Linked DNA regions of Homo sapiens. The protein of the gene in region 1 interacts with the protein of each later gene in a pairwise test. Each region holds a gene or a part of one and is shown on either strand. Other genes may lie near its edges. The genes, in order: STEEP1, KIF9, RPRD1B and HAT1.

Region 1 (7,323 bases):
CAAGCGATTCTCCTGCCTCAGCCTCCCGAGTAGCTGGGATTACAGGCATGCACCACCATGCTCAGCTAATTTTGTATTTTTTTAGTAGAGACAGGGTTTCTCCATGTTGGTCAGGCCGGTCTCAAACTCCCGACCTCAGGTGATCCGCCAGCCTCGGCCTCCCAAAGTGCTGGGATTACAGACGTGAGCAACCGCACCCGGTTAATTTTTGTATTTTTAGGAGAGACGGGGTTTCACCATGTTGGCCAGGCTGGTCTCGAACTCCTGACCTCAGGTGATCCACCTGTCTTGGCTTCCCAAAGTGCTGGGATTACAGGCGTGAGCCACCGTGCCCGGCCAGGGCGGAGACTTTATCTGCTTTGTTGTTTGCTGAATCTTTAGCACAGTGTTAGAACAGTGCCTGCTACCTAGAGGGCCCTCACGTATTTATCGAAGAAATTAATTCTTGGTAAGGAGGTGTGGTGGAAACAGCATGTGCTTTTGAATCACTTAGAGTTGGGTCTGAATTCTTGTTCTGCTTCTTATTAGATGCATGGTATATCTCTTACCCTTTTTAACCTCAGTTCCTTCATCTTTAAAATAGGAACAACAAATCTTTACTTTAACCATTCATTGTGAAGAGTAAATGAGCTGACATGTAAACTGCCTAGTGTTCTCTAACTCCTCTCTTCACCTCCTCTATTCATCTTGAATTACTCTGACCACTTGACTTTCTCTGTGATCCTTTAGGTGCTTAATTTGCATTATATAAATTTTCTTTTTTTTTCTTTTTTTTTTCTTTTGAGAGACGGAGTTTTCCTCTGTTGCTCAGGCAGGAGTGCAGTGGTGTGATCCCAGCTCACTGCAACCCTCTGCCTCCTGGGTTCAAGCGATTCTCCTGCCTCAGCTTCCCAACTAGCTGGGACTACAGGTGTGTGCCACCACGCCCTGCTAATGTTTGTATGTTTTAGTAGAGACGGTTTCGCTATATGTTGGCCAGGCTGGTCTCGAACTTCTGACCTCAGGTGATCCACCTGCCACCTCAGCCTCCCAAAGTGCTGGATTACAAGCGTGAGCCACCGCACCTGGCCCATTATATCAATTTTCAATCTGCTTTACAACTGTACCTAATTTGTTTACTGTGTTTTCATTGTTTTCAGATTAAAATTCCTCCAACTAGGATGGATCATTTGCATACTATATAATCACCCTCTCTCTTCCTTTTTTTTTGTTTTTTGACGGAGTCTCGCTCTGTTGCCCAGGCTGAAGTGCAGTGGCACAATATTGGCTCACTGCAACCTCCACCTCCTGGGTTCAAGCAATTCTCTCGCCTCAGCCTCCCAAGTAGCTGGGCCAGGCTGGTCTTGAACTACTGACCTCAGGTGATCTGCTCGTCTTGACCTCCCAAAGTGCTGGGATTACAGGCATGAGCCACCTCGCCTGGCCTCTTTTTTTTTTTTTTTTGTAAAACAGAGACAGGGTCTTGCTGTGTTGCCCAGGCAGGAGTACAGTGGCTATTCACAGGCACAATCATGGAACACTACAGCATTGCACTCCTGGTCTCAAGCAATCGCCCTGCCTCATTCTTCTGAGTAGCTGGGACTATAGGTGCATGCCACCACGCCCAGCCTCTCTCCTTTTCTTAGCACATACCCACTTTTCCCAGTGCTTCCTTGTAGGCATTCCAGTATGCTTGATTGTGTCTCCTGATTCTAATGCATTATAACACAAACCAAGTGTACTATGATCACAGAAATACTTACAGAAACCTGAATTGCAGTATTGGGAAGGACTTTTGAGATAATATCATCTAACTCATCTTTCAAATGAGGCAAAAGTCTCCAAAGGAGGAAGTGATTTGCCAAAGATCACCAGGGTAGTAAGAGAGCTGGGTCCAAATACCAAGGTCTCCTGATAGCAAGTCATTTTTAGTTGGAACATTCAATAATAGGTTTCAATAAGCATAGTAATTGTAGTAGAAAATTCTAGTGCTAGGGATCCCACTCAAAACTTCTCAGGATATTTTGCAGTGACTCATTTGCTATATTTTGCCATGACTCTAGTGACCAAATCTCTCCATTCCTTCAGACTGCCAGTTAGAGAAATTGCCCATGAGGCCCCGGGACCGGTCCCGTGTGATTGATGCTGCCAAACATGCCCATAAGTTTTGTAACACAGAAGATGAGGAGACTATGTATCTGCGGAGGTAAGAGGTTGATGCTCCCTGTTTAGGATTTCCCTATTGTGTTGGAGTCTGTTTCTGAATAATATAAATATCACATCTATTGTTGAACAGGTCAGTTGGTCCCAATACTTTGACATTTGTGGTGGTTTTCTAACTTCTGTTAATGTAGTAATATCTTTATTGTGCTTTGTTGAAATGGTGCTCACATGTGATTCCATTGCTTTTTTTTTTTAATTGAGATGGAGTCTCACTCACTCTGTTGCTCAGGCTGGAGTGCAGTGGTGTGACCTCGGCTTACCGCAACCTCCACCTCCCAGATTCAAGCAACTCTCTTGCCTCAGCCTCCCCAGTAGCTGGGATGACAGGCGTGCGCCACCACGCCCAGCTAATTTTTGTATTTTTAGTAGAGACGCAGTTTCACCATGTCGGCCAGGCTGGTCTTGAACTCCTGGCCTCAAGTGATTCTCCCTCCTTGGCCTCCCAAAGTGCTGGGATTACAGGCATAAGCCACTGTGCCCGGCCCCTCCATTGCCATTTGATAGCCGTAGTTTGTTTACAATTTACAGGTTTGAATGAGTTCATTCAACCTGTAATCTTGTGGAGCATACCGTGTGCCAGGCACTGAGCTAGGTACTGGATCTGTGAAGATGAATAAGGTATGATTTTTACCATTAAAGAGCTCATGACTTTGAGGGAATGACTCCTATTGTGATAGGAAAAAATACTGGTCTTCTGAACGAAAGGAAAAACAGGTGGGAGTGGGTCATTTGTCCTGAATGGTGGCCAGGAAAGGCTTCAAAAGATGATGGCATTTGTGTTTAGCCTGAACTAGGATTTCACCAAGTAGATGAAGGGAATGAAGAGCATTCCAGGTGGAAGGAATATGGAAGCATTAAAAGCATCAAACATGGTGTGCTTTAGAAACCTGAATTGTCGTTTGTGACTGGAGCACAGGTTACTTTACAGGAACGGCATCATGCATACTAGGGTGAGGACAGAGTAAAGTGCTGAAGTGGACAAGTTTGGCCTTAATCTGTAGGCAATGAAGAGCCATCTCCGTTTTTTTTTTTTTGACGGAGTTTCGCTCTTGTTGCCCAGGCTGGAGTGCAATGGTGTGATCTTGGCTCACTGCAACCTCCGCCTCCCAGGTTCAAGCGATTCTCCTGCCTCAGCGTCCTGAGTAGCTGGGATTTCAGGCACCTGCCACCACGCCTGGCTAATTTTTTGTATTTTTAGTAGAGATGGGATTTCACTATGTTGGCCAGGCTGGTCTCGAACTTCTGGCCTCAGGCGATCCACCTGCCTCTGCCTCCCAAAGTGCTGGGATTAGAGGGGTGAGCCACTGCGCCCGGCCTATCTCTGTTTTTTAAGCAGGGGTGTGATGTGGTTAGCTCTGTTTTAGATTTGGGAGTTTGGTATATATGGGAAATTGAAACCTGGGAAGGGATAAAATTACAGAGTGTGGAGCAAGCAGATAGGACTGAATATTTAAAAGGCAGACAAAAGAATTGGAACAGAACCAGAAGAACCTGGTGATGCAGAAAATAGGAGAGAGTATCAAGAAGTGTGTGGGGGTGTGGCTAGGGGACGGTCAGCAGCAGGTGCTAGAAGTCATGGAAAGGTCAATCCTAGGGAATTAAAAAATCCATCCATTCATGCAACAAATATTTCATTTACCGAGCTCCTACTATGTTCCAGGTACTATCCTAGAAGTCTGGAATATATACCAGTGTATTAGTTTTCTTTTTTTTGGAGACGGAGTCTCGCTCTGTCACCCAGGCTGGAGTACAGTGGCGCGATCTCGGCTCACTGCAAGCTCTGCCTCCCAGGTTCACGCCGTTCTCCTGCCTCAGCCTCCCGAGTAGCTGGGACTACAGGCGCCTGCCACCATGCCCGGCTAATTTTTTTTTGTATTTTTAGTAGAGACGGGGTTTCACCGTGTTAGCCAGGATGGCCTCGATCTCCTGACCTCGTGGTCTGTCTGCCTTGGCCTCCCAAAGTGCTGGGATTACAGACGTGAGCCATCGTGCCCGGCCGCCAGTGTATTAGTTTTCTAGAGCTGCCATAGTAAAGTACTACAGCCTGGGTGTGGTGGCTCACGCCTGTAATCCCAACACTTTGAGAGGCTGAGGTGGGTGGATCACTTGAGACCAGGAGTTCGAGACCAGGCTGGCCAACGTAGTGAAACCCCATCTCTACTAAAAATACAAAAATTAGTTGGGCATGGTGGCGCGTGTGCCTGTAATCCCAGCTACTCGGGAGGCTGGGATAGGAGAATTGCTTGTATGGGGAGGCAGAGGTTGCAGTGAGCTGAGATTGTGCCACTGTACTCCAGCCTGGGCGACAGAGTGAGACACTGTCTCAAAAAATAAAAAAAAAATAAAGTACTACAAATTGGGTGGCCTAAAACAAGAGAAGTTGTTTAATAGTTGTGGAGGCTAGAAGTCTGAAATCAAGGTATTGGTAAGTCCATGCTCTCTCTCAAGATTGTAGGGGAGAATCCTTCCTTGCCTCATTCCTGGTTTTTGGCGTTTACCAGCAATCCTTGGCATTCCTTGGCTTGTATTGTAAATGCATCACTCCAGTCAGTGCTTGTATCATCACATGGCATTCTCCCTTTGCCTGTTCTTTTCTTATAAGGGCACCAATCATATTGGATTAAGGGCCCATCCTCCTCCAGTATGACATCATTTTAACTTAACTAATTATGTCTGCAACATCACTATTTCCAAATAAGGTCACATTCTGAGGTTCCTGGATGGATGTGGATTTTTTTTTCTTTTTTCTTTTTTCTTTTTTTTTTTTTTTTTGAGATGGTGTGTGCTACCATGCCTGGCTAGTTTTTGTGTTTTTAGTAGAGATGGGGTTTCACCATGTTGGCCAGGCTGGTCTCAAACTCTTGGACTCAAGTGATCCTCCCACCTCGGCCTCCCAAAGTGCTGGGATCACAGGCATGAGCCACTGTGCCCGGCCAGAATGTGAATTTTTAAGGGTCACTATCTAACCCAGTACAACCAGTAAACAGCAAAGAATCCTGCCCTTATGAAACTTTAGTGTTGAACCAGAAAAAAACTATAGGCTGACATCTAGCTACATGTTTTCTTTCTTTCTTTTCTTTTTTTTTTTTTTTTTTGAGATAGAGTCTCGCTCTGTCACCCAAGCTGGAGTGCAGTGATGCGATCTCAGCTCACTGCAACCTCTGCCTCCTGGGTTCAAGTGATCCTCCTGCCTCAGCCTCCCATGTAGCTGGGATTACGGTTGTGCACCACTATGCCTGGCTAATTTTTGTATTTTTAGTAGAGACAGGGTTTCAACACGTGAAGCTGCTCTTGTGAGCCTCCTTCTCCTTCTTTGGCCTTCTCAATCCTTTGGATTCTTTTTCTTCTGCCTGCCCCTCAAGTATTGGTATTCCATGCGGTTCTGACCTTGCTTTTGTCCCCACTCTCTTTATGCCTTCCTTGGGCATTCTTGTCACCTTACATGGCATTAGTTACACTTTTATGCTGATGATAAAATCTAAATCTGCCTACTGTGCCTTCCTGTGTCCCAGAACTGTATAGCCAGTTGCCTACTCTACCTCTTCACCTGATGTCCTACTTTTCAGATCCAACATGATGAAGGCCAAACTTATCATTTCTCTACTGTGGACAGTACCACAGATCGATTCGCTCAGCACCACTCTGACACTCTTTTTTTTTTTTTTTTTGAGACGGAGTCTCGCTCTGTCACCCAGGCTGGAGTGCAGTGGCGTGATCTCAGCTCACTGCAAGCTCCGCCTCCCGGGTTCAGGCCATTCTCCTGCCTCAGCCTCCTGAGTAGCTGGGACTACAGGTGCCTGCAACCACGCCCGGCTAATTTTTTGTGTTTTTAGTAGAGACGGGGTTTCACTGTGTTAGCCGGGACGGTCTCGATCTCCTGACCTCGTGATCCGCCCACTTCGGCCTCCCAAAGTGCTGGGATTACAGGCGTACTCTGACACTCTTCTGCTACACCCTCCTATACACGAGTGTCTGTAAAGTTAGGGTGCATATTCCAGTCCCCTTCCCCCCAACAACTAAGATTCTGAATATGACTTAGCTTTGGCCAAGCAAAAGAGATGGAAGTAGATGTCAGCTGATGGGTGACTTCAAGCCTTTTTTACCCTTTATCCTTATTCCATCCTGCTTCTTGGGAAATGGACATGATAATTGGAACACTAGCAGCCAGCCTGGAACTGGGAAGGAGAGGCCACAAGAATTGCAGAGCCTTTGCCCTGCTATCCTTGGGTCTCAACCAGTGCTCAGAACTGCCTTCCTCCTGATGTTACATGAGAGAACAAGCTCTTTTGTTGAAGCCATTGCAGTCAGGTCTCTATTACTATTAGCCAAATGCTAGTCCTTCTTTTCCTTCTTCTTATGATGACACCAGGATTCATGCAGTGGCCCCAGCCAGAAATCTAGGAGTCAGTCTCTCTTTGTCTCATCTGTCCCCACCATCCCACCATCATCCCCTGCATACATCTAGTCACTCACCATGTACTGTCGATTCTGCCTTCTAATCTCTTTTGTGGCTGCTGCCTCCTGTTCAGCCCTGCTGCACTGCCGTTATTTCAGTACCCAAAATCACTTACTTAGACTACTGAAGTGGCCTCTTACCTGGTCTTTTGGTCTCTAGTTTTGCTCTCCTCCAGTCTATCCTCTACTGCTTGAATTATCTGAAATACACATTATGTCAGTCACCTGCTTCAAATCTGTTAGTGACCCTTCATCACTTATAGCAATGCCTTTGAAACATTTTTAGATGAAAAATCCTTTCTTTAATTAAATTCTTACCCAGAAGTATAAATAAGACTGATAAGCAGAAAGCTGCTCTGAGTGGGGAGGAGTCTAGCCCAATCCATTAAGGACTCCTCCTTCCTCCCCATCTGATTTCATTTAGGGATCATTGTGGAGTACAAGGAAAACACTCCTAGTTGGCTGGATAAAAATATAAGCCTGAATGCGCTCTATGATCTGTCCATCTTCATCTTCTGGTACTCTCTTGATTTTTTTTTTTTTAAAGAACAAACATTTATCATTTTATGTATTTTCTGTGGGTCAGGAATTCAAGAGCAAGCTTAGCTAGGTGATTCTGGTCTCTCATGAAGCTGCGATTAAGAAGATGACTATGTAAACAGTCAT
Region 2 (7,323 bases), on another chromosome or scaffold:
TAAGAAGTGTTATAGGACAGGATTTTTTGCAGCCCTGTCCTATAAGAAGTGTATACATTCCTCTAGTATGTGAACCATCCATGCTCCTGTTTTTGGAGCAATACCCTTAATATCCCACTGTCAAAGCTTCAGTATCTCAGCATCTTAGACTTTAGTAATCTAGCCCAGTGCCACTAATAGAAATATACTGTAAGTCACATGCAAATTTGAGTTTTCCAGTAACCACATTTTAAAAAGTAAAAATAAACAGATGAAATTAATTTTAATGATATATTTTATTTAACTAAATATATTTAAAATATTTCCGCATGTAATCAATATAAACTTATTGAGATAGTTTACATTCTTTTTCTCATACTAAGTCTTTGAAATCCAGTACATATTTTATACTTGGGGCACATTTCAGTTTAGGCATAAATATTATCAGAAATGCTTGATCTGTATTTAGATTTCATAAAATGTTGAAAAAGTAGATTTACATACCCAAGTTGTTCCAGACATACTTAAAGTTTACCAATAACTGAATTGCATCAGTTTTTAAATCTAACTGTAATTAAAATTACATAAAATTTAAAATTCAGTTCATTTGTACTAGCCACATTTTAGATACTCAGCAGCCATCTGTAACTTGTGTCTACTATTTTGAACAAAACCGGTCTAAATTCTTAGAGGAAGGCAGGACCTCAGGAATTATCCCTTCCTTGATAAGCACTGGGGAGGGAATTAGGAGTTGAGAAGGCTGAGTTCTGGCTTTACTTCTACCCTTACTAGCTGAGTGACCAATAGACAAATTATTTATTTATTTATTTATTTATTTTTTAGATGGAGTCTCACTGTCACCCAGGCTGGAGTGCAGTGGCGTGATCTCATCTCACTGCAAGCTCTGCGTCCTGGGTTCAAGAGATTCTCCTGCCTCAGCCTCCCGAGTCGCTGGGACTACAGGCGCACGCCACCACGCCCAGCTAATTTGTGTAATTTTAGTAGAGACAGGGTTTCACCATGTTGGCCAGGATGGTCTCGATCTCCTGACCTCATGATCTGCCCACCTCCGCCTTCCAAAGTGCTGGGCTCACAGGTGTGAGCCACCACACCCGGCTGACAAATAATTTTATTTTGTAGTGCCTTCCACAAATACGTATTGCTCCTGCACTGCCTCATTCACAGAGATTTATATGTGGATGGAATTAAATAGATTTGAAAGAGGCATATAAATGATGAGACTCTAAAATAAGAAATCCTCACTCCAGAGTCCTTTCCACTCATTATGCCTCTACTTCGTGAGATGGTTTAAGTGTTAGCCAATCTGATGTCAAGCCTCAAAACACTACAAGATGATACTAAATATCACCCAATTCCTTTAGGACAATAATTATTCTATACATCTTGATGTTCCCTTCTGAGTTAGGAAGCCCCCCTTATGCTAGTTGGCTGTTGGGGTTCTGCTCTTGGTGACCGCTGTACAATCTGTCATCTAGGTTTTTAGGATGATCGAAGAACGCCCCACACATGCCATCACTGTGCGTGTTTCCTACTTGGAAATCTATAATGAGAGCCTGTTTGATCTCCTGTCCACTCTGCCCTATGTTGGACCCTCAGTCACACCAATGACCATCGTGGAAAACCCTCAAGGAGTCTTCATTAAGGGCTTGTCAGTTCACCTCACAAGTCAGGAGGAGGATGCATTCAGCCTCCTTTTTGAGGTGAGATAATAAAACCTGAGGGTTCCTTTCCTTCTCTCCCTCCCTGCCACCCTCCTTCTCAGCTTTTCTTTTTCTTTTTCTTTTTCTTTTTTTGAGACAGGATCTTGGTTTTTCTCCAAGTCTGGAGTATACTGGCATGAACATGGCTCACTGCAGCCTCGACCTCCTGGGCTCAAGTGATCCTCCTGCCTCAGCCTCCCAAGTAGCTGGGACCACAGGAGCATGCTACCATGCCCACTTAATTTTTTTTTTTTTTTTTTTGTAGAGACAAGGTCTGGCCATGTTGCCCAGGCTGGTCTTGAACTCTTGGGCTCAAGCGATCTTCCCACTTCGGCCTCTCAAAGTGCAGGGATTACAGGCAAGCTACTGTGTCCAGCTAGTTTTTTACTTACTTTGATTATCAGAATGGAAATTAATATATGCACATTTAGCAAGTTCAGATAGTGCTGAAAAAAAAAAGGAACAAAAAAGAATTTTATTTCCTCTTCCTTTCCTGTTACGTAAATAAAAAGAAAAAATGATTCATGCATAATCTGTTTTTTACATAAGGCAACAATAATGTATATTTTAGCTCATTTCCTTCCAGTCTTTTTTCCTGTGCAGCTTTTTCTTTACATAGTTGAAATGATTCTTATGTCCCTTTTTTCAGTTAAATTATGAGCTCTTGTATGGAAAAAAATAAGGCCGGGTGCAGTGGGTGATGCCTGTAATCCTAGCACTTTGGGAGGCTGAGGTGGGTGGATCACCTGAGATCAGGAGTTTGAGACCAGCCTGGCCAACATAGTGAAACCCCATCTCTACTAAAAATACAAAAAATAAGCTGGGTGTGGTGGCGGGTGCCTGTAATCCCAGCTACTAGGGAGGCTGAGGCAGGAGAATCACTTGAACCCGGGAGGCACTGGTTGCAGTGAGCCAAGATCGTACCATTGCACTCCAACCTGGGCAACAAGAGCAAAACTCCTTCTCAAAAAAAAAAAAGAAAAGAAAAAGAGAAAAATAAGAATTAGCATCCTTACTATACAAAAGCTCTTAGAGCCAGGTGCGGTGGCTCATGCCTGTAATCCCAGCACTTTGAGAGGCTGAGGTGGGTGGATCACCTGAGGTCAGGAGTTCGAGACCAGCTTAGCCAACATGGTGAAACCTCATCTCCACTAACAATACAAAAATTAGGCTGGGCACGGTGGCTCATGCCTGTAATCCCAACACTTTGGGAGGCGGAGGCAGGCGGATCACAAGATCAGGAGATTGAGACCATCCTGGCCAACATGGTGAAACCCCGTCTCTACTACAAATACAAAAATTAGCTGGATGTGGTGGCGCTAACTCCCAACTACTCAGGAGGCTTAGGCAGGAGAATAGCTTGAACCCGGGAGGCAGAGGTTGCAGTGAGCTGAGATTGTGCCACTGCACTCCAGCCTGGCGACAGAGGGAGACTCCATCTCAAAAAAAAAAAAAAAAAAAAAAAAAATTAGCTGGGAGTGGTGGTGGGCACCTGTAATCCCAGCTACTCGGGGGGCTGAGGCAGGAGAATTGCTTGAACCCAGGAGGCAGAGGCTGCAGTGAGCTGAGATTAAGCCATTGCACTCCAGCCTGGGCAATAGAGTAAGACTCCATCTCAAAAAAATAAAATAAAGGCTCTTAGAAACCAGTCAAATGCACTGGCACAGTGGCTCACGCCTGTAATTCCAGCACTTTGGGAGGCCAAGGCGGGTGGATCACTTGAGCTCATGAGTTCAAGACCAGCCTGGGCAACACAGTGAAACCCCACCTCTACCAAAAATACAAAAATTAGCCAGGCATGGGGGCGCATGCCTGTGGTCCCAGCTGCTTGGGAAGCTGAGGTGGGAGAATCACTTGAGCCCAGCAGGTAGAGGTTTCAGTAAGCTGAGATCATGCCACTGCACTCCAACCTGGGTAATAGAGCAACACTCTGTCTCAAAAACAAGAAAAGAAATCAGTCAAGTGTATGTTATTCTTTTAGAAGTCATATAGGCTAGGAACTCTTTATTTTTTTATGCAAGTTCTCGCTGTGTTGCCCAGGCAATGGGCACATGTGCAATGGCTATTCACAGGCATGATCATAGTGCCTTCTCACAACATAGCAACTTACTTCCTCAACGTCAATAGCAGGATCTTTTTTAAAGGGCCAGAAAGACAAGGCAAGGCCAGGCGCGGTGTCTCACACCTGTAATCCCAGAGCTTTGGGAGGCCGGGGCAGGCGGATCACTGGAAGTCAGGAGTTCGAGACCAGCCTGGCCAACATGGTGAAACCCCCTCTCTATTAAAAATACAAAAAAAGAAAGACAAGGCAAGAGGGTACTTCAGAAGGGGGACTGAAGAGTAAAGGTGAATGACCTGCTGTGGTGGCTCATGCCTGTAATCCCAGCACTTTGGGAGGCTAAGGCAGGAGGATTGCTTGAGCTCAGGAGTTTAAGACCAGTCTGAGCAACATGGCGAAACCCTGTCTCTACAAAAAAATATAAAAAATTAGCCTGGCATGGTGGCCTGTACCTGTGATTTTAGCTACCTGGGAGGCTGAGGTAGGAGGATCACTTGAGCCCGGGAGGCAGAAGTTGCAGTGAGCCAACATCACGCCACTGCACTTCAGCCTGGGCAACAGAGTGAGAATGATCTCAAAAAAAAAAAAAAAAAGAAGAAGAAAAATGAAGTGACCCCTTATATTCTTGGTGAGTGTCACTGGATTTGTAGAACAGGCCTGACCATAGACTATAGCCTCACTACTATAAGCTATAGAGGTATGGCCACAGGAGTCTGCTAGGCTTGCTCCACAGCCTCAGGCCTTCCCTCTTCAGCGGGTGCTCTCCTCTCCCCAGGGGGGGCTGTCCCCCACCCTCACTTTGGGGCTTGTTCATAGCACTTCTCATCAGCATTTAAGGAGACATCAGTCTATCCCTCAAGGACCTTTTTCTCCAAGAACAGCCATTTCCACCACACCACCACCCTGTCTCTACAAAAAATTCCTTTTTAAGTATATTCTGGTCATAAGGCCTCCTCCTGTAAATTAGAGGTAAGGGCCTACTGTCCCTTTAAAAATACAAATTACTAGGTCAGGCACAGTGGCTCATGCCTGTAATCCCAGCACTGTAGCAGGCCGAGGCGGGCAGATCTCTTGAACTCATAAGTTCCAGACCAGCCTGGGCACATGGTGAAACCCTGTCTCTACAAAAAATACAAAAATTAGCCAGGTGTGGTAGTGCACGCTGGTAGTCCCAGCTACTCAGGAAGCCGAGGTGGGAGGATGGCTTGGGCCCGGGAGGCAGAGGTTATAGTGAGCCGAGATCGTGCCACCACACTCTAGTATGGGTGACAGACTGAGATGCTCTCCCAAAAAAAAAAAAAAAAAGGAGAACACAAAATAAATAAAAATATAAATTATTATTTTTATAGTAATACATGCTCACTAAAAAAAACCCACAAAACTGTATAAAAAAGATAAAATAACCTATAAACCCCAACCCAGAAGCAACTATTATTAACATCTTATTAGCAGAATTCTGCTTATTTCTTCTATGAATGCTTTTGCATTTCTTAGATCAGCTATAATATGATTTTGGATTCTACATTTCTCTCTGTTATTAAAAACTATGTGTCAGCATTTTCCTGGCTGCCCAATATCCCACTGTATACATAGATCATTCCCAAATTGTTGGACATGCAGGTTGATTCTGATTCAATATTCATAAACATTTTTAAGGCTCTTGATTTTTATTGTCACTTTGCTTTCCAGAAAGCTATACCAATTCACACTTCCCCAGCGGCGGGTGAAAGTGTAGATGTGGACTCCAATTTGACTCCCTTTCTATTAGTTTATAAAAGAGGTTTGCCTGGAAGGCCCAGCTGATCGCAGTGATATGAGACCACTTGTGTAGCTATTGGTATAATTGAAAAATGACCCAAGTGCCTTGTCGTTTTAGTTTTTCGAAATGTTGCCTATGATTCCCTTCCTCTTCAGGGTGAGACCAACAGGATTATAGCCTCCCACACTATGAACAAAAACTCTTCCAGATCACACTGCATTTTCACCATCTACTTAGAGGTAGGTGCAAGCTCTTTGATCAGCCCAGGCGGGGCAGTCAATTCCCACGGGGCCTGCTCAGTCAGAAACTTCTCCCTGTGACAGTCTAACTTCTGCTTGGATGTTTTGTAGGCCCATTCCCGGACCTTATCAGAGGAAAAGTACATCACTTCCAAAATTAACTTGGTGGATCTGGCAGGCTCAGAGAGGCTGGGGAAGTCTGGGGTAAGTGATGGGGGCTGGAGGTTGCTACTCAATAAACCACAAGCCCTTTTTCTGGCACAGTGCCTGCACATCTGGGCCATGACTCATTGGATATTTGTGAACACAGTCCTGAGCTAGGCGAAGTGGGACATGTGGGCTTGCTGGAGGGACAGGATTTGCAAAAAGGGAACGGCTATTACCTGGGGGCGGTTCCTACCTCAGAGGATTTTTGTAAACATTAAATGAGATAGTGCCCTCTACATTCTTAGCAAAGTGCCTGGCACTCAGTGCTCAGTAAATATTCCTTGCTGGTATAGCATTTCTCTGTGTGTGTTTTTGTTGTTGTTGTTTTGAGACACAGTCTCGCCGTGTCTCCCAGGCTGGGGTACAGTAGCACAAATACAGCTCACTGCAGCCTTGACCTCCCAGGCTCAAGTGATCATCCCACTTCAGTGTCTCAAGTATCTGGGACCACAGGTATGCACCACCATGACCAGCTAATTTTTAAATTTTTTTGTAGAGACGGGGTCTCGCTATGTTGCCAAGGCTGAACTTGAACTCCTGGGCTCAAGCGATCCTCCTGCTTTGGCCTCCCAAAGTGCTGGGATTACAAGTGTGAGCCACCACACCTGGCTTCTTTGTGAATGAATATGAGTATTCGTATGAGTATTTGCATGAGTATTTCAAATAAATATTTGTATGAGTGTATTAGCAGAAGTATTAACAAGAGTATTCAGATGAGCATTTGTATGTGCATTCATGAGTGTTTGTGTGAATATTCACAGGATTCTTTGCTCAAATATCTAGACAAGTATTTCAGTACATATTCATATTAGTGTGAATCTTTGAGTGAATGTCCATATGAATATTCATGTAAGCATTCACATTCGCATGAGTATTCACATGAGTGTTCACATGAATATTTCTGAGTTTTGGTATTACCATTATTAGCCCAAGATGGAATACAATCGCATGACATTGAAAGAAGACCCTGGTTCTGGGAAGGAGGCGCTGACCTGACCACAGACTTATAGCATTTCTCCAGACCAGGAAGACTGCTATTCTTAGTGGGGCAGCTGCTTTATTCCATCCAAAGTGGAACTGACCTTTGCTTTGTAGTCTGAGGGCCAAGTCCTGAAGGAAGCCACCTACATCAACAAATCGCTCTCATTCCTGGAGCAGGCCATCATTGCCCTTGGGGACCAGAAGCGGGACCACATCCCCTTTCGGCAGTGCAAGCTCACCCACGCTCTGAAGGACTCGTTAGGTGAGGGGGTACAGTTGCTGCCCAGGGAGGAGGGTCTGTGTCTTTGGGGAGGGACAGGTTTGGCACATCTGCCACTGGTGATGATAGAATTGCTCCCTCCTGGTGGCATGGATTCA
Region 3 (7,153 bases), on another chromosome or scaffold:
AACAGACCTCAGCTAGCACACTCAGCCCCCTGGCCCTGTGATATCCTGCACTGCCTTGGGACTCTGCAGAGTCCCCACCAGCAAGAAAGTTTTTTACCTGATGTGGCCCTGTGACCTTGGATTTCTCAGCCTCCATAACTGTAAGAAATACATCCTTTTTCTTTATAAATTACCCAGTTTCAGGTATTCTGTTATAAGCAACAGAAAACAAAGACAGGGAATACCACAAATAGCTTTACCCATATAAATTTGACAACTTTGATGAAGTGGTTAATTCCTCAAAAAACACAACCACAATAGGAAAGAGATTATTTTAACAGCTTTATAACTTTTAAATAAACTGAATTTGTCACTTAAAAACTCCAGAAAAAAAAGGAAGAAGGGAAGGAAGGGAGGGAGGGAGGAGGGAGGAAGGAGGAAGGAGGGAGGGAGGGAAGCAGGGAGTGGAGGGAATCTCCAAACCAAGATGGTTTCATTGGAGAATTCCGCCAAACATTTAATGAAGAATTAACACCAATTCTGCACATACTCTTCTAGAAAAAGAAGAAACACTTTCCAATCCATTTTATAAAGCCAGTATTATCCTGATACCAAACCAAAGGCAATACAAAAATTAAAAAAATCTATAGACCAATTTCTCTCATGAGTATAGATGCAAAAATCCTAAAGAAAATATTAGGAAATTCAGCAGTATGTAAAACACACACACACACACACACACACACACACACACCATGATAAAGTGGGGTATATTTCAGAGATGCAAGACTGGCTCAATATTTGAAAATCAATTAGAGTTGTTAATACTAACAAGCTATTAACAAGCTTAAGAAGAAAAATCACATAATCATATCATCCTCACCTTTCAGACCTCTATATGTTGAAGAATCCTAGGACTCAGTCTCTTTTTACACCTTATTCCGTTATGACTCTCACATTTTTATCTCTAACCCAGATAGCTCTTCCTTGAATTCCAGACCCATAAACCCAACTGCCCCTTAGACATCTATACTCAGATAGGCATTTCCAAATGGACATGTCCAAATACAAATGCTTGCTCTTACTCTCCAAACCCACTCTTTTCTGTAATTCAGTAAATGGAAGCGCTATTCTTATAGTTGCTTAGGCCAAAACCCTTGGAGCTATCTCAACTCTCATATGTCTTTCACACCCCATATCCAATCTATCAGCGGATCCTGTTACCTCTTCCTCTAAAATATCCCCAGAACTGTCCCTTTCTTACCACTTCCACAGATACCACCCTGGTTTGAGTTATCCTTTCACCTGGGTTACTACAACAGCTGCCAAACTGGTCCTTCCTGCTTCTACCTTTGCACTCTTACTGTCTTATTTTCTACCTAACAGCCACAATGCTCCTTCTTTGTGCAAAACTGCCCAGTGGACTTCATTTCATTCAGAGTAACATCTAAAGTCTATACTATTGCCTACAAGTCACCATGTGATGCAGTCCCTTCGTACTTTTCTGAACTAATTTCCAGCCACCCTTCTAGTTCATATCACTCCAGCTTTATTGTCCTCTCTGCTGTTGCTCCAAAATGCCAACAATGGTATAAACTTGGTTTTCCCTCTTCCTGGAACAATGGCATATGGCTTGTCTCTCAAATGACATCTTATCAATGAGGCCTTCTCTGAGAAGCATAAGTAAAAGACTACCCACCTACACATATACATTCCTTATCCTCCTTATCTCCTTGATTTTTATTGAAGTTACTTACCACTTTCTGACTTATTCTAAACTTGCATGTTTGTTTTTCTATCTTTCTCAGTAGAAAGTAAGTTCCTGAGAACGTGGATTTTGTCTGTTAGCTTAGAAGAGTGCTTTGGACATAGGTGCTGAAAAATTATTTTCCGAATGAATGAATAAACTATTGGTTCAGGAGGCAAGAATTTGGGATCAGACATAAGATAACCCTAATTTGACTCCTGGCTCTGCTATTTCCTAACTATGTCCAAGTACATAGGGTACTTAACCATGCTTTACATTTTCTCGTCTATCAAATAGTGATTGTAATAATTTCAACTCCTAAGACTGATGTAAGAATTAAATTTAAAAAGTATGTAATGTGCTTAATAGACAGTGACTTGGTATAAAAGTGCTCAGTATATGACAGTGTTATTAATATGGAAAGATGATCTAGATTTCGACACAAAAGCCCTCAGTTATGACTAGATACTCACTGTATGATTTTAGGTTACTCACCTCTTTTACACTAACTCACTTGATAAATCAGGAACTGGGGCCAAAAAGATGGCTAAGTTGCAGCCCCTTCCCTCAAGTCTTAGTAATGTGATCTTGGGTAGGTCACTTAACCTCTCTGAGCCTGTTTCCTACGCTGTCCAAAGGGGGATAATATAATACCTCACAGCTTTGTTGTGAGGATTAAATGAGTTACTGTGTGGGAATTGTGTCTAGCACATAGTAACCTCTCACTGCGTTAGCTATGATTATGATTCCAGTCTGGAGGAAGGGTAAAAGCATGTAAGCAAAGAACTGCAATACAGTGCAATAAGAGCAAAAGCAGGCATCAACTAGAAGAACGTCTCCTAAACTAGAGTCTGCCCACAACTAGGAAGTTATACCACGATCAGGAAATTTTAAAACCCTCTTATGTCTATAACTTAACTCCCTACCATCACCCCCGTGGCAGTAAGAAAAACAAAATTTCTCTGCTGCTTTGATACCTGGGATTTAAAACTTAAAAAAAAAATAGGGTCAAGGTTTAGAGTCTCAGATAGTGTTTTGTTTTGTTTCAGAGAAGAGTCTCGCTCCATCGCCCAGGCTGGAGTGCAGTGGCACGATCATAGCTCACTGTAACCTCTAACTCCTGGGCTCAAGGTATCCTCTCGCGTAGCTGGAACTGCAGGTGAGCGTCACCATGCCTGGCTAATTTTCGCTGTTACCCAGGCTGGTCTTGAACTCCAGTCCTCAAGCTATCCTCTCGCCTCGGCCTCCCAAAGGGTTGGGATTACAAGCAAGAGACGTTGCGCCAGGCCTCAAATAGTGTGTCTCAACATGAGGTCAACAGACACATTGGGAAGGCTAAGTTAGTTCCCTCCACCTTTTCCCTAAAGTTAACACCTCACTTAAGTTCGAAAAAGTCAACTGGACCCGCAGACGGCAAAAGCAGCACGTAATAATACCCTGAGTGAGAACCCACTTAAGAGCCGAGAGCCCAAATGTGTGTTTCATGACGGCGCTGTTACAGACTAAAAGGTCAAAACAGGACATTAAAGGGTGCTCCGGGGGGCTGAGTAGGAGCTCACCAGGTGAGAAAGGGGATGTCACTTTCGGACAGAGAACGAGCGCCAGGGCGTGGAGGCGTGAAAAGGGCACGTGGGTGGCTTGGAAGAACCAAAACTAAGTGTTTTGGGGGACAGCCAGAGAGCCGAACACATATGGAGGAAAGATGCGGCCTGGGGCCCGCCAGATTAGAAAGGAAATCCCCCTCCCATATCCAGATCATGATCTCTCAGACTCAATGTCCCCTCAGGATACCCCTCTACAGGGTCCCAGCTGCTGGGCTCCCTCTGGTTCCCGCCACTCTTCCCTTACCTCGTCTTCCAGCCTTTCTCTCACTCTCCCGCCTCCTCTGCCTCGCCGGAAGTGACGCGCTAAGTAGCGCGCCGTATCGCGCCAGAAAGGTTCCGAGGGAGCGGGAAAAAGGGTTCCGGCGAGATCCACTGCGCCGGTGTGCAGGCTCGAGCGGTCAAAGCTCTTTCCGGGGGCCCGGGGAACTACTCTCCTTGCCTCGCTCTGTCTCCTTCGAAGTGCTCTGCGCGAGGTTCAGAGCGGCCGCCGCCTCCAAAGGGACGGTTTTCTAGAGCTCCGACGCCTCTCGGTGCCCCTCTGCTCCGGCCCTTGCCCTTTGACCTCGCTCTCGCGGCAGGGTGAGAGGTCGGGTGGCCATCTTGTGGCGGCGGCGCGGGCGGCTGTTACTGCGGAGACCCATCCCCTCCCCCTTCTCGCACCCCTGGCAGTCTGTCAGTCGGTAAAAAGTCCCGCAGCCTGTCAGGTGAGGCCCCGGCCTCGTGCCGTCGCTCTTCCCGCCGCACTGGGCGGCCCAGGCCGCTCCCTGCCGGGCCTCACTGCCGCCACCATGTCCTCCTTCTCTGAGTCGGCGCTGGAGAAGAAGCTCTCGGAGCTGAGCAACTCTCAGCAGAGCGTGCAGACCCTGTCCCTTTGGCTCATCCACCACCGCAAGCACGCGGGACCCATCGTCTCCGTGTGGCACCGCGAGCTCCGCAAAGGTAAACACCAAATCCCCACCCCCTGGACGGTCCCCGGATTGTCCTCTCGCCCACATACAACCTAGGCCCCTCTAAGCCTCTTCATTGAGCCTTGCTTTCCAGGCCTGATCGAGCTTCTGAGATGGGAGACAAAGTTAGCCCCATTTCTCGAAGAAGGAAACTGAGGCCCGGGAAGGTTTAAGGTACTTGCCTGAGGGTCCACGGACTGGGACTCAGGTGTCCAGACTTCTAGTTCATCAAGCCATTTTCCCTTCAGTTTCCCCCTGACATTTGTGGCTGTTATTATCTCGGCTGCATTCACTGCCGTACTGGCCCTAGCATGTCGGGCCCAGTGCTGGGTATTTGGAGTAAAAGCCAGTGGGCTCCGGAGTCAGACTCTGCAGATCGAGTCCTGGCTCAGCTATTTGCCAGCTGAATAATACTGGGAGAGTTTCTTCATCTCCCTGTGTCTCCGTTTTCTCATCTGTAAGAGGGAGGCAAGGATAGCTACCCCTTACAAAGCCTTTACTTCATACCAGTCACTATACTAAGACCTTTGTGTGTATCCTCGCACTCAGTCCTTAGAACAGCCCTGTGAAGTAGGTAGTCTCTCCCATCTTAGGTTAAGGGGCCACCCAGACCTTACCTCTCCTCTCCTCTCCTCTCTCATGCAGTTGTCATTGATTTCAGGCCCTGCTCAGGTTCTGACAGACAATTCATTGAACTCATTCTGTTATGTGCCAGGCACTGGCTTGGACACTTGCAGCATGTTGCCTCTGCCAACTGCCTAGAATTTAAGCCTGACTTTGCCGCCTTACTGACCCCAGCAACTTAACCTGTCTGTGCCTTAATTTTCTTATCTACAGAATGGATAACTGAAATTTACTATGTCTTTATTACATGCGAAGTGCAGTACTGATATCTTTACATACATTGCCATTAAAAAAAATTCTCGGAGCCCTATGAAGTAGGAACTTTGCAGAAGAGGAAAAACTGAGACTCATCTCGTGGTGAGGAGTAAACGGGATAATCCAAATGAACATTTAGCATGGGGTGAGGCACAGTGTAGGCATTCAGCAGATTATGGTGAGATGAGACTTTTGATTACTCACTGTGAGGCATGGTCTTTACCTTCAAGTTGCTTACAGTCTGGTGGGGAAAGATGGACACCTACACTCCCGGATGAGTTTCATAATGGAAGACTGAAGAAATGAAGCTCAGAGCTGCTCCAGACACCCTATATGTGGTAGGCCTTTATAGCGAAGTGGCTTTACAAGTGTTCTATACTATCTGTGAGTTGGGGACACCACAGATGTCCTGCTCTACAGGTGAGGAAACTGAAGTGGCTAAGTGGTATTTTCAAGGCTTTCGAACTGAACAGGCTCAGACTACAACAGGCTGGCAAACACCAAAATCTTCATGATTTTTTTCAGGAGACCCAGTTCTAGCCCTTTAGCAGGGACTGCCCCCAAATATCGCGTACTGTACTGAGATAGGGATCCCCTCAGCCCTTCGGGCAGTTCCGGGAAGAGGTAGAGCCTGGAGTTTATGGGGCCTTCTTCATGTACCCCACTGTGCCATTCAGAAATTATTTGAAGAGTGTGCTGAAATGTGAATTGCCACTGTACAGAATTCTATTGGGTGGGACCTCAAGAGGCAGTTAAAGTCCATCTCAGGTGTCATTTTTTTTGTTTTTTTTTTTTTGAGATGGGGGTCTCGCTCTGTCACCCAGGCTGAAGTGCAGTGGTGCGATCTCAGCTCACTGCAAGCTCCACCTCCCGGGTTCATGCCATTCTCCTGCCTCAGCCTCCCGAGTAGCTGGAACTACAGGGGCCCGCCACCACACCCAGCTAATTTTTTGTATTTTTAGTAGAGATGGGGTTTCACTGTGTTAGCCAGGATGGTCTTGATCTCCTGACCTTGTGATGCCCCCGCCTCGGCCTCCCAAAGTGCTGGTATTACAGGTGTGAGCCACCACGCCTGGCCAAGTGTCACTTCTTTTGTGACACTTTCTTGATTCCTTGCCTCACCCTAGTTGAGTTACTGAAAAAAAGCAAATTAGAGAGTACATTTGTGTATGAAGCTCCGTTATCCCTAATCTTACGTGGTAAAGCCTTATGTTGCAAGTAGGCTAGCATTATTATCCTCATTTTATAGATGAGATGATAAAGGTATAGAGGGATTAAGTGCCTTGTCCACAGACATACAGCTAGGACATGAGCCCAGGGCTGCCTGATGCCAAAATGTGTTCTTTTTCATGTACTCAGTGCCTCAATGCATTTAATAAGTGAAGGTGGTCACCTGACTGCAATCAAACTGTGGTGCTTTCATTTATTAGAATTAATGAGTGCCTCCCACCCCATCATACCAGTTTAGCATTTAATTTGTTCCTACTAGCTGTTCATTTGAACTGGTTACATCTTTGTCATTAGATTATGTTTTGAGAGAGGAACTAGACCTTCTTGTTTATTTGCAACACCACAGGATATCGCGTGGTGCCTGTTATATAGTTTAAAAATAGGAATTAAATCATGGTCTCTGATAGAATTTTCGTGGTTGAGTAAAGGATCTAAACAGCGCTATCCAATACAACTTTCTATGATAGCAGCATAAAGGATATAAACAGCGCTATCTAATACAATTTTCTGTGATAATAGCAATGTTTTCTATCTGTGCCATCCAACAGGTAGCCGCTTGGTATATGTGGCTATGGAGCACTTAAAATGTGTGACTAAGGAACTAAAGTTTTAAGTAGATAGAATTGAAAATTTAGTTTCCAGTTTTTACCAGCTGCAATTCAGGTGTTCCAATAGCCACACGTGGCTAGTGGCTAACTTACTGGACAGTGCAGAGTTAAAAAAAGATGCTCTTCCAAGCATCAATACCTAGCTTCCGAATATCCAGG
Region 4 (3,049 bases), on another chromosome or scaffold:
CCAGCCTGGGTGACGAGCAAAATTCCATCTCAAAAAAGAAGAAAATTTGTCATCTAGTTGCAGCTGAGTAGTGGGATGATTGGCAGAATATTTAATTTATTCAACATATAATTATTGAGTACAGTTGCTCAATGATAAAATGTTGTTGCTGCATTTATATATACTATACCTATAGGGTTATACATCACAATAGCTGGGAACATAAGTGACCAAGTTGATTCTACATTACAATTTGAGAAAGTAAATTAACTAACTGTATCAGGTACACATAGTTTTGGTTTTCCTTTGTAAATTTAAAGAAAATTTAAGTTTTATTTGCCATGGATTCTGCTTTATAGAGCCAGTCTTGAATGCTGATGGTTCATTGGCTGACACTACTTGCTGAATCCCAACTTTTCCTTCATAGCATCTTTTTACTTTGCAGTGCAACTGTATTTCCTAATTTGTCATTGTAATTCTGTTCACATTCTGAATATAAAATTATTATTTGCCTATGACTAAATCATTTTATCTTGAATTCATACACAGATGTATGAATAGTTCCTCATAGTGTCATTTCATTGCAGTTTAATAGTTTTTCTATTTTACAGACCATCATCTGCATATAGCAGGTTTGTAATAAATTATAATGGTCTCCTCAAAAGTTATCCAAAGTAGCATTTTATTATTTGATGTTATCAATTCAGAAACATCAGAAAATGGGTAAAAATGGTATTTTCCAAAGGTTTTGACCTTTAAGTAATATTTGTTAGCTAGAAAATGTCTTAATGATGAAATTTGGGCACAGAGAGCAGTATAGATGGCAACATTTAAGAGTTATTAAGATTTTACTAAAGTAAAATAATTTATTGAATTATATATTTTAGATATTAATGTGACTTTTATATAAAATATAACAAATGAAAGATGGAAATTCTGAGTACAAATAGTAGTCACACAGCTAATGCCAAATAATGGGAACCTCTGTAGTTCATAAGTGCAAGTATTTTCTACTCTTAAAGAATGATAATTCTTTTTTATATTATTATTAAGTACCTTTACCTGTCCAGCCAGTTCACCAGTCTAAAAGGCCAGAACTGGGCCGGGTGTGGTGGCTCATGGCTGTAATCCCAGCAGTTTGGGAGGCCAAGGTGGGTGGATCACTTGGGCCCAGGAGTTCTAGAACAGTATATCCGAAACATGAAAGCTTCATATTTGCAATAATGCCACCCAACCAGGAATCCTGGAGTTATTCTTCATTCTTCCTTCCTCATATCACCCAGTATTTTCTCCCCTAAATCTGCCCTGTCCTCTCCATCTCTGCTGCTGCTGACTTGATCTAGGCTTTCATCAACTCTGGCTTGAACTACTGCAGTAGCTGCCCAGTCCTCCAGTCCCATCCTAAACATCTCTGACACAGTGTCCTGCATAAAAGTTGTTATCAGCTACCTGTTGCAAACTCCTTAGCATAGCGGTATCCTAAGTCAAACCAGGAGGGTTTAGTATGATAATGTATGTCTGGAACTTAATAAAGACTCAAATGCTATTTAATATATTTTTAAAGTATAGCAGTTTTCCATTTGTCTTTCTGAAACATTTCTAACAGTTTATGTTAAAATTAGCATGTGGCCCGTAAGTACTTCACTGGGTGGAATTTAAAATGTAATTAATTAATGACTGAATAGTAAAATGAAGAATAATAGCACTTAATCTCAGTTGTCTTTCTTCAGCTAATGTCTTCTATCTATTAAGCAAATATTTGAGTGTCTATACTGCCCAGAGTTCTTTAAAGTTTTGGAGGGGGCTGCTAGTCACATGTCTGTATTTACCATCATTGGACACAAATACCAGGTCTTCTTGTTAACTCTTTTTAGAGGGTTTGCAATTCATGGTTAACATTATGTTTAAGCTTCCTTAAAAAACAAAACAAAACAAAAAAAAAACATTGTGGGACAAGTTTGGGCGTATTCATACTATTCTTATTTTTAACATTGGAGACTTAAAATTGTAAGACTATAAGGAAATATATTTACTTTCTTCGTCTAACAAATAATTGTTTGTCACTTAGAAAAAGCAGAGAGATCTTGCTAAGATGAGAAAATGTCTCAGACCAGAAGAACTGACAAACCAGATGAACCAAATAGAAATAAGCATGCAACATGAACAGCTGGAAGAGAGTTTTCAGGAACTAGTGGAAGATTACCGGCGTGTTATTGAACGACTTGCTCAAGAGTAAAGATTATACTGCTCTGTACAGGAAGCTTGCAAATTTTCTGTACAATGTGCTGTGAAAAATCTGATGACTTTAATTTTAAAATCTTGTGACATTTTGCTTATACTAAAAGTTATCTATCTTTAGTTGAATATTTTCTTTTGGAGAGATTGTATATTTTAAAATACTGTTTAGAGTTTATGAGCATATATTGCATTTAAAGAAAGATAAAGCTTCTGAAATACTACTGCAATTGCTTCCCTTCTTAAACAGTATAATAAATGCTTAGTTGTGATATGTTAATGTGTGATGATATGATTCTTAAATACTTACAATAAACCTCATTCTTAAATACTTATCATTCCTTCCACACTTTGCTTCTAAGATTTTACATCTGACACCTTTAAAACATTTCTTTAAGGTTATCCTGGTAATTTTATTTTTTCAATATGATTTTTCTTTCTTTTTTAACTTTTAGATTCAGGGGTACATGTGGAGGTTTGTTACATAGGTAAACTAGTGTCTTGGGGGTTTCTTGTACAGATTATTTCAACACCCAGATACTAGGCCTAGTATCCAATAGTTAATTTTTCTGCTATTCTCCCAACCTCCACCTTCAAGTAGGCCCCAGTATCTGTTGTTCCCTTCTTTGTGTCCATGTGTTCTCATCATTTACTCCCACTTGTTAAGTAAGAACATACAGTATTTGGTTTTCTGTGCCTGTGTTAGTTTGCTAAGGACAATGGCTTCCAGCTCCATCCATGTCCTGGCAAAATACATGATCTTGTTCTTTTTTATGACTGCATAGTATTCTGTGGTGTGTATATACCACATTTTCTTTATCCAGTCTGTCACTGA

Evidence for each region.
Region 2: the proteins of STEEP1 (region 1) and KIF9 interact in binary tests that used the Homo sapiens proteins (3 or more experiments, as listed by UniProt).
Region 3: the proteins of STEEP1 (region 1) and RPRD1B interact in binary tests that used the Homo sapiens proteins (3 or more experiments, as listed by UniProt).
Region 4: the proteins of STEEP1 (region 1) and HAT1 interact in binary tests that used the Homo sapiens proteins (3 or more experiments, as listed by UniProt).

The regions. Positions count from the first base shown.
Region 1 is NC_000023.11:119,555,130-119,562,452, reverse strand, and holds part of STEEP1 (STING ER exit protein), read left to right. Parts: intron 1-2,067; coding exon 2,068-2,185; intron 2,186-7,323.
Region 2 is NC_000003.12:47,265,614-47,272,936, reverse strand, and holds part of KIF9 (kinesin-like protein KIF9), read left to right. Parts: intron 1-1,475; coding exon 1,476-1,700; intron 1,701-5,673; coding exon 5,674-5,757; intron 5,758-5,868; coding exon 5,869-5,961; intron 5,962-7,059; coding exon 7,060-7,207; intron 7,208-7,323. UniProt on the Homo sapiens protein: Essential for normal male fertility and for progressive motility of spermatozoa.
Region 3 is NC_000020.11:38,029,830-38,036,982, forward strand, and holds the start of RPRD1B (regulation of nuclear pre-mRNA domain-containing protein 1B), read left to right. Parts: upstream 1-3,916; 5' UTR 3,917-4,118; coding exon 4,119-4,269; intron 4,270-4,276; exon of another isoform or gene 4,277-5,576; intron 5,577-7,153. UniProt on the Homo sapiens protein: Interacts with phosphorylated C-terminal heptapeptide repeat domain (CTD) of the largest RNA polymerase II subunit POLR2A, and participates in dephosphorylation of the CTD by RPAP2. Transcriptional regulator which enhances expression of CCND1.
Region 4 is NC_000002.12:171,981,138-171,984,186, forward strand, and holds the end of HAT1 (histone acetyltransferase type B catalytic subunit), read left to right. Parts: intron 1-2,047; coding exon 2,048-2,215; 3' UTR 2,216-2,549; downstream 2,550-3,049. UniProt on the Homo sapiens protein: Histone acetyltransferase that plays a role in different biological processes including cell cycle progression, glucose metabolism, histone production or DNA damage repair. Coordinates histone production and acetylation via H4 promoter binding.